2 separate regions of the Homo sapiens genome follow, and region 2 is linked to region 1. Evidence: fine-mapped expression QTL. A gene starts in region 1. The other region holds a variant in brackets. All regions are shown on one strand. Distances are between the middles of the regions. Region 1 holds the start of PRRG4 (proline rich and Gla domain 4). Region 2 has its middle 19 kb from the start of QSER1.

Region 1 (4,374 bases):
AATACAGCAAGGAAATAATAGAAGAAATCAGCTCTCTTGGGCATTGTTGTTACTGGCTTTTCTCATTTCTCTCTTTGCCATCTAACCTCAAAATATCTTGCAGCTCCGTAGTGACTGAAGTTTGTGTGCATGCTGCCAAATGCTGTAACATTCTCTAGGACTCAATGTTACAGGGAAACACACAGGGATGTAATTCACTACTGAGAAACAGACTTCATTTCTCTGTCTGCCTCCCTCTCTGTCTATAAACTCTGATATTTGATGTCAGCACAAGGCCTCATTTGTTTTGGTCCAAATATCCAGATATGTGGGCAGACTCATTTTACCAAGGAATGTCATCAAAGTTCACAACTGCTGATTCCATAGCATGAGGCATTTGACCATTGGCCTCTCCCCAAAGTAGTGGGAAATGAAGCACTTTTCCTACCTGAAGATAAATTGCTTCCACTCCATGAAAATGTATTCAGCACGAACAATGTAGAAAGCACTCCCCTGGGTACTGTCGAGAATGCAAAAATGAATAAGTCAGTTCTTGCACTTGATAAGAACTTTACAGGCCCACATTCTCAGATATAGGTCTCAGTCAGATTAAGTTCTCCTCCACAACAGAAGCTGTGGTGTCCATCTCCCCACCAGGAGGTCTCAGTGCTGTAGGTTGACTCAATGAATAAACAGGAAAATGGGTGTTCTAGTGAAAATGTTTCCTATTCTTGTGTTCAACCACAATAAACCATGTCTGGCCTCTTCATAGTCTGATCCCAATTGCTTGAATAAGAGGGAAAGAAGAATCCATCATAGAAATAGTTTAGACCACGAGGTAGACAAATGGAAAGTGAAGAGGAAGGGATTGGAAGAAGGGAAAGGAAAAGCACTGCCTAGAAGGAATCAGTGAAAACAAAATTTCTGCAGAAAACTTAGGAATAATTCAGTTGATTATCAATAATAATAATAAAATAGACAATATCCTTTGGGAGGAGAAAAACAGAATTTGGTAAAAATTGAATTAGTCAAAAATTTGAGGCCGGGCACAGTGGCTCATGCCTGTAATCCCAGCACTTTGGGAGGCCGAGGTAGGTGGATCACCTGAGGTCAGGAGTTTGAGAACAACCTGGCCAACATGGTGAAAACCCCTCTCTCCTAAATGTACAAAAAATTAGCCGGGCGTGGTGGTGGATGCCTGTAATCCCAGCTACTCGGAAGGCTGAGGCAGGAGAATCGCTTGAACCCAGGAGGCGAAGGTTACAGTAAGCCAAGATTGTGCCACTGTACTCCAGCCTGGGTGACAGAGCAAGACTCTGTCTCAAGAAAAAAAAAAAAAAAATGAAGGGGGAAAAAATGTTTCCCTTGGTCCCCAGCAAGTGCCAGACCACTTCGACCAAAGCATAAATAGTGTTTCAAAGAACTGTTAAGCACGTTCTTTGGATAAAGAAGGATGTGACCATCACCTGGCATAGGTACTCTGTCCACCTGCTGCCTTCATTACTTGATGCAGCAGTTTTTGAAGTCTTTAATCAAGACCTTTTTACGCTCTTTTACATTATCAAGGACCCCAAAGAGCTTTCACTTATGTGAATTTTATCTAATGATATTTATTATCTAACATTAAAACTGAGAAATTTTCAAAATATTATTTGAAATCAAGACAACAAAGCTTACTTTTTGTTATGTTTATGCATAGACTCAAGGAAAAGATCAAGATTTCAAGATAATTACTTCAGAAAAATGAGGTTATAGCTATCCTAGTAGATATGAACAAATAGAACTAATCAAAGTACAAAAGCAGTAGCCAAGAGAGTTGGTGGACACCTGTAGTCCCAGCTACTCTGGAGGATGAGACAGGAGGATCTCTTGAGCCCAGGAGTTCCTGGGCAACAAAGTGAGACCCCCTACTCTGAAAAAGAAAAAAGGAAAGAAAAAAAATTAAGTTCACAAGTACTGAGAACAAATTTTATTAATCTCTATAAATCTACATAAATCTCTATAAAATGTACATACTGATAATGTAAACATACTACTATGGAAAATACCAGAAAATACAAGCACGCTCACTCAGGTATTCTATTAGGAGACAGAATGATGACGTTATTACACTTCAAATAGCCCCTGGAAATTTCCACTGTACACTCTTGAGAGAATGAAAGTGAAAATGGCAAATCATTTATTGTTACTATAATGGAAATAGTTTTGCCCTCAGAGACCCCTGGAAAAGATCTTGGAGACATCCCAGACCTGGCGGACCACCATTGGAGAACCAATGTAATCAATTACTTGTAAGGTCATTTCCATTTCTTATCACGAATAAAGGGTATTTTGTCTGATGAATATCTTGTCCTCGTCCCCGGACCACCCTTTTGAGAACAGTTGACCTAAGGTAACCACAGGACTCCTGGCCCAGTGGGACCCAAAGCGAAAAGCCCTGGACGCGCCGAGGGCGCTCTGCTTAAGACTGAGAACCGAAATGCTTCCTGAATTAGGATCATTGAGAACGCCGAGTGCAGACACAAATCGAAAAGCAGCCACCCGCGCCGCCAAGGCGGGGCCAGAACTGGCGGCAGGCGGCTGGCCCGCCCGGGGATGGGGCAGAAGCTGGGGCGGCTGAGAGCGCAGCGCGGGCTCCCGGGAGACGCCGGCCCACTGCCCGCCCGCTCGCCGCAGGTAGGCCCGGCCCCCGGGAGGTGGGGCGCGGCCAGGTGTCCCCAGGTAGCCGCCTCCTCCCGTCCTCCGTCGGCCGCCTCCCCGGACCGAGGCAGGACCTCACCCCGCGCGTGTTCCCCGGGCGCCCCTCTGCGAACCCCAGGCCCTTCCCAGGTTTGCGCGCGGGGGCCATCCAGACCCTGCGGAGAGCGAGGCCCGGAGCGTCGCCGAGGTTTGAGGGCGCCGGAGACCGAGGGCCTGGCGGCCGAAGGAACCGCCCCAAGAAGAGCCTCTGGCCCGGGGGCTGCTGGAACATGTGCGGGGGGACACAGGTACGAGGCCTGGCGGCAGGACCTCGGCGGGGAGGGGGTTACCTGGAAGGGGCCACCTCGGCGGACTGGGTTGGATTCGAACACATAGCGAGGGTTGCCCGCGGCGACAGGTGCCCGATCAGCCCTCGGCAGGGTCACTGGGCACGGCGTTTGTCCCAGGCGCTCTCAGGGGCTGCTTCCTGGGCGCGCGTCGGGTTCCGGCGACCGAAACCGCGCGCCGGGCGCTCTTGCGCCTAGGCTTTGAGTACAACAGGTTGGTGATTCAGTTCGACAGAAACTCAAAGTGCTGAGCTAGGGGCCTTTTTTTTTTAATATTTTTTTTTGTTTGTTTTAGTTTGTTTGACAGTTGCCAGACTATGTTTACGCTTCTGGTTCTACTCAGCCAACTGCCCACAGTTACCCTGGGGTTTCCTCATTGCGCAAGAGGTCCAAAGGCTTCTAAGCATGCGGGAGAAGAAGGTAAGCACTAAAACGTCCCTGGAACCCAGAGCCGCATAGCACAGATCTCAGTGAGAAAGTGCAGTATTTGAAATTACATACCCCCAGCAATCATAGAAACACTAAAATATCCTTTAGTTTAATTTGTGGCATATTTGGCAAGGTTGTGTTTTTTTATGTTCTTTAACTGCAATTTATAGAATTTGATGTCTGTGAGTCTCCTTTAATAAGTATATACGTAAGACCTAGTTTGTGGTTAATTGAATGGAAAACCTATTTCAGCTTCTGAAAATCAGTGAGTGACATTTCTCTAGATGAAGCTGTGTGGCGATTATAATAAGCATAATTACTTGTTCTTCCTGGAGAGGCGAACGGGGAGTCCAGGATCTAGTCTGGACTTGCGAGACCCTGGGCGAGATAACTTAATCCCGTTTGGCTTGAATGTCTTCATCTGTAAAAGTGATGCGGGTGGGGCGTAAAATGATCTCTGAGGTCCTTTTTGACTTCAGATGGTCTAGTTGTCTAGATAAAAGCAGCTAGTTGAGAAAAGATTAGGTTTGGGGCTTGCTAACCTGGAAGTCCACAGTTTTTAGGTTTCAGATCATTAACAGTTTGTTTCCTGCCTATATCTTAAAAGCCTAACCTAGTAAAACCAGAAGAAAAAAAAAGCCTCTGTCTCTCAGCATCCTTCTCCCTGACTATTCATGGTGCTTCCCCACTCAGTGTCAGTACTCTGGATCCACGTCCCCACACATTCCTGTCTCTTATCCCTTCTCATCAGATCCGATTCTCAGCTCATTTTCATTTGGGAAGGATCTGTTACACTAGTACTCCTAACTGACTTTATTAATGATTAATACAGCTGTGTTTGTGTGTGTTGAGCTAGAACAATCCATTAACCCAAAGGCGTGAAACTCTGATGACAGAATTCTAGCAACTGGATAGGCTAGCTAGAGAGAGAGGGAGAGAT
Region 2 (4,397 bases), 44 kb after region 1:
GTAAGAGCTGAAGTTCATTTTCTTCCATGCAACTATGCAGTTGTTTTAGCAACACATCTTTAAAAGGCTGTCCTTTCTCCGCTGAATTATCTTGGTACCTTTGCTGAAAATCAATTGATCACACATATGGGGTTCTGTTTTACTGATCATAGTTTATCCTTATATCAATATCATATTATCTTGATGACTGTAGCCTTGTCATAAGTCTTCAAAAGAAGTAGTCTAAGTTCTCAAACTTTGTTCTTTCCCAAAAAATTTTTGGCTATTTAATACATTTAACATTGCATACATTTTGGAATTAGCTAGTCAATTTCTAAATCAAAAGACTGCTGAAAATTTGACTAGAATTGCATTTAATTTATAGAAAAACTTACATGTATTAAACAATCCATAGTTTTTTTGTTTGTTTGTTTGTTTTTTTAGACAAAGTCTTGCTCTGTTGCCCAGGCTGGAGTGCAGCGGTGCGATCTCAGCTCACTACAACATCTGCCTCCCAGGTTCAAGTGATTCTCCTGCCTCAGCCTCCTGAGCAGCTGGAATTACAAGTGCATGCCACCATGCCCAGATAATTTTTGTACTTTTTGTAGAGACAGGGTTTCACCATGTTGGCCAGGCTGGTCTCGAACTCCTGACCTCAAATGATCTGCCTGCCTCAGCCTCCCAAAATCCTGGGATTACAGGTGTGATCCACTGTGCCCAGCCCATAGTATGTTTTCTCATGTATTAAGATCTTTTAAATTTATCTCAGCAATGTTTATAGGTTTCGGTATATAGGAGTTACGTCTATTTTGTTAAATTCATCCTTAAGTACTTAATGTCTTTTTACACTGTTCTAGATGACATCTTTAAAATTTAATTTTCCAACTTTCTTTCCAAGAGAATTCCAATTATGTTTTCAAGAGAATTGAAAACGTATGTTCACATAAAAAATTGTTTATAGCAGCATTATGCGTAATAACCAAAAAGTGGAAACTCCCAAATGTTCATCAACCTATGAGTGAATAAACAAAAAGTAGTATATACATACAAGGGGATATTATTCAGTTAGAAAAAGGAATGAAGTACTGACACATGCTACAACATTGGTAAACCTTGAAAGCATTTCAGTAAGTGAAAGAAGCCAGACACAAAAGCCCACATATATCGGGTGATTCCATTTATATGAAATGTCGGAATAAGCAAATCCATAAAAATGGAAAGTAGATTAGCCATTGACAGGAACTGTGCGGAATGGGAAATGATGAGCAAGTGCCAATAGATAAGAGGTTTTTTTTCAGGGTGATGTAAATGCTCTAGAATTAGATACTGGTGATGTTTACACAATTTTAAGTACATATTAAAAACCACTGGACGGGCACAATGGTTCATGCCTGTAATCCCAGCACTTTGGGAGGCTGAGATGGGCAGATCACGAGGTCAGAAGTTCAAGACCAGCCTGGCCAATGTGGTGAAACCCCGTCTCTACTAAAAGTACAAAAAAACTAGCCCGGCGTGATGGGGCATGCCTGTAGTCCCAGCTACTCGGGAGGCTGAGGCAGGAGAATCGCTTGAACCCAGGAGGCGGAGGTTGCAGTGAGCCGTGATTGTGCCACTGCGCTCCATCCTGGGCAACAGAGGGAGACTCCATCTCAAAAACAAAAAGCAACAAATACTGTATTGTATACTTTTAAATGGTGAGTTTTATGGTACACGAATTATACCTTGATTTTAAAAAAATTTATTTTCCAATTGCTTATTGTTAGTATATAAAAATATAATTAATATTTGGTTATTGAACTTGTATCCTACGATCTTGCTAAATTCAACTTTTAGTGCTATGGTTTGCATGTGTTCCCCCAAAAGCATGTATTGAAAACTTAATCCCCAATGCAGGAGTGTTGGCAAGTAAGAACTAATGACAGGCAATTAGGCCTTGAGGGCTCCACCCTCATGAATAAATTAGTGATGTTATTGTGGAAGTGAGTTCATTATTGTAGAAGTGGGTTCATTGTAAAATTCTCTTTCTTGCCCTCTTACCTTCTGCCATGAGATCACACAGCAAGCAGTCCCTTGCCAGCCTCTCAGTCTTGGACTTCCCAGCCACCAGAACCATGAGCCAAATAAATCTCTGTTCTTGGGCATCCTGTTACAGTAGCACAAAAAAGCAAAAATAGAAAATTGGTACCGGAGAAGTGGGGTATTGTTATAACAAATACCTGAAAATGTGGAAGTGACTTTGGAAGTGGGTAATGGGTAGAAGCTGAAGAATTTGGAGGAGAAGCCTAGAAAAAAAAAAAAACCTGTACAGAGCATTAAGGCTCAGAAGAAGAGATAGCTGTTAGGAAAGTCTGAAATTTCTTAGAGACTGCTTAAATGGTCGTGACCAGAATGTTGGTGGAAATGTGGACAGTGAAGACTATTCTGATGAGTCTCAGATGAAAATGAGGAGCAAGGTATTGGAAACTGGAAAATGGGTCATCCTTGTTATAAAGTGGCACACAAGTTAGCTGAATTGTGTCCATGCTCAAGGGCTTTATGGAAGACAGAACTTAAGAACCATGAACTAGGACATCTGGCTGAAGTAAAATCTAAGAAGCAAAGCATTATGAAGCTGCGTGGCTTCTCTTAACTATATGTGGTAAATTTAGAGTGGACACGCATGA[T/C]TTAAAGATGGCATTTATCATTTAAAAGGGAAGCAGAATAGAAAGACTTGGAAAATGTCCAGCCTGGCCATGTAAAGAGTGAAAAGTCATGTTTAGAAGAGCAAACCAAGGGTGTGGCAAAGCAACTGTTTACTAAAGGGATTAGTAGGGATGGAGGGGAGTCAGATGCTATTTATCCCACAAAGACAATGGGAGAATGGGGCTGCCCCTCCCATCACAGGCAAGAGCAGGGTATTGAGGGTGAGCTTTCCAGAGAAGCACCAGCAGATAATCAGCATTTACTACCTGCATTCCCTCAAGTCTCTGCTCCCTGCATTCCAGCACAGCACTGCTTGGCCACCCCAGCCCTGGCTCAAGTGTGGCCAGGTGCAGCATGTGATGCTGCTCCAGAGGGCACAAGCTCTAAATCTTGGCAGTGTTCACATGTGTGCCAACTCTGCAGATGCCAAGAGGGTGCAAGCTATGGGCCATGGCAGCCCTCACCTAGATTTCAAGGAATATCTCGGACAGCCTGGGGTCCCAGGCAGAAATGTGGTGCAGGGTCAGAGCCACAGCAGAGAGTATCCTGGAGGCATCACAGAGTCCCCATTAGGACAGTGCATAGTGGAACATGTTTGGTTTCACAGGCTCAAGGCTGGAAGAAGTATGCCTCAGAATGAATTGTGCCATAAGTCTCTCCCATATCTAATATAGATGAGACTCTGGACTTTGGACTTTTGAACTGGTGCAGGAATGAGTTAAGACTTGGTGTTGGCCGGGCGCAGTGGCTCACGCCTGTAATCCCAGCACTTTGGGAGGCTGAGGCAGGTGGATCACGAGGTCAGGAGATCGAGACCATCCTGGCTAACACGGTGAAACCCTGTCTCTACTAAAAAATACAAAAAATTAGCCAGGCGTGGTGGTGGGCACCTGTAATCCCAGCTACTCAGGAGGCTGAGGCAGGAGAATGGCGTGAACCCGGGAGTCGAAGCTTGCAGTGAGCCGAGATTGTGCCACTGCACTCCAGCCTGGGCGACAGAGCCAGACTCCGTCTCAAAAAAAAAAAAAAAAAAAAAGACTTGGTGTTATTAGGATAAAATTAATATATTTTGCTTGTGAGAAGGATGTGAATTTGGGGGGCCAAGGATAGAATACTATGTTTTTAACGTATTCTCCAAAAAGCATATGTTGGAAACTTAATCCTCAATGTAACGTTATTGAGAAGTGGAGCCTAATGAGAGGTGATTAAGCCATGAGGCTCTAACCCTATGAATGGATTAAGGCCATCATCGCAGAAGCAAGTTCATTATTTCAGAATGGGTTTGTTATAAAATGGCAGGTTCAAGTTTGAACCCCTTCTCTCTCTCTCTCTCCTTTCTCTCTCTCTCTTGTCTTTTTGCCTTCTGCCCTGAGATGATGCAGCAAGAAGGCCTTCACAAGATGCCAGCCCCTCAATCTTGGACTTCCCAGTCTCCAGAACCATGACTCAATAAATTTCTGTTTATTTTAAATTACTCAGCCTTAGATATTTTGTTATAGCAGCACAAAATGAACTAAGACAATCAGTTATACTTTTCAAATTTAGATTCCTTCAGATTTTTATGACATTCACAAATAAAAAGTGTTTTACTTTTTAATTTTTGTCCTATATGTACTTTATTTATTTTTCTCACCTTATTGCTCTGGCTAGACCTCCAGTACAATGTTGAATAGAATGGTAAGACAGAGAGTGATTGATAGCTAATATAAATATTGATATTTAGGGAATGTTAATAA

The links. PIP is the estimated chance that this variant, and not a neighbour inherited with it, causes the effect.
Region 2: its variant is the best candidate, but not a certain one, in a credible set for the expression of PRRG4 in whole blood (INTERVAL, PIP 0.50).

The regions. Positions count from the first base shown.
Region 1 is chr11:32,827,208-32,831,581 of GRCh38, forward strand. PRRG4 (proline rich and Gla domain 4) reads left to right here and starts at 2,720. Exons shown (of 6, transcript NM_024081.6): 1 at 2,720-2,966; 2 at 3,301-3,425. The coding sequence starts at 3,323. It also overlaps a transcript of CCDC73 not described here. RefSeq lists a silencer at 2,497-2,876 and enhancers at 3,297-3,346, 3,357-3,416.
Region 2 is chr11:32,871,476-32,875,872 of GRCh38, forward strand. No RefSeq gene overlaps it. Among named protein-coding and RNA genes, the nearest start is that of QSER1, 19 kb to the right of the region's middle. The variant T/C (reference allele first, on the strand shown) is at 2,643.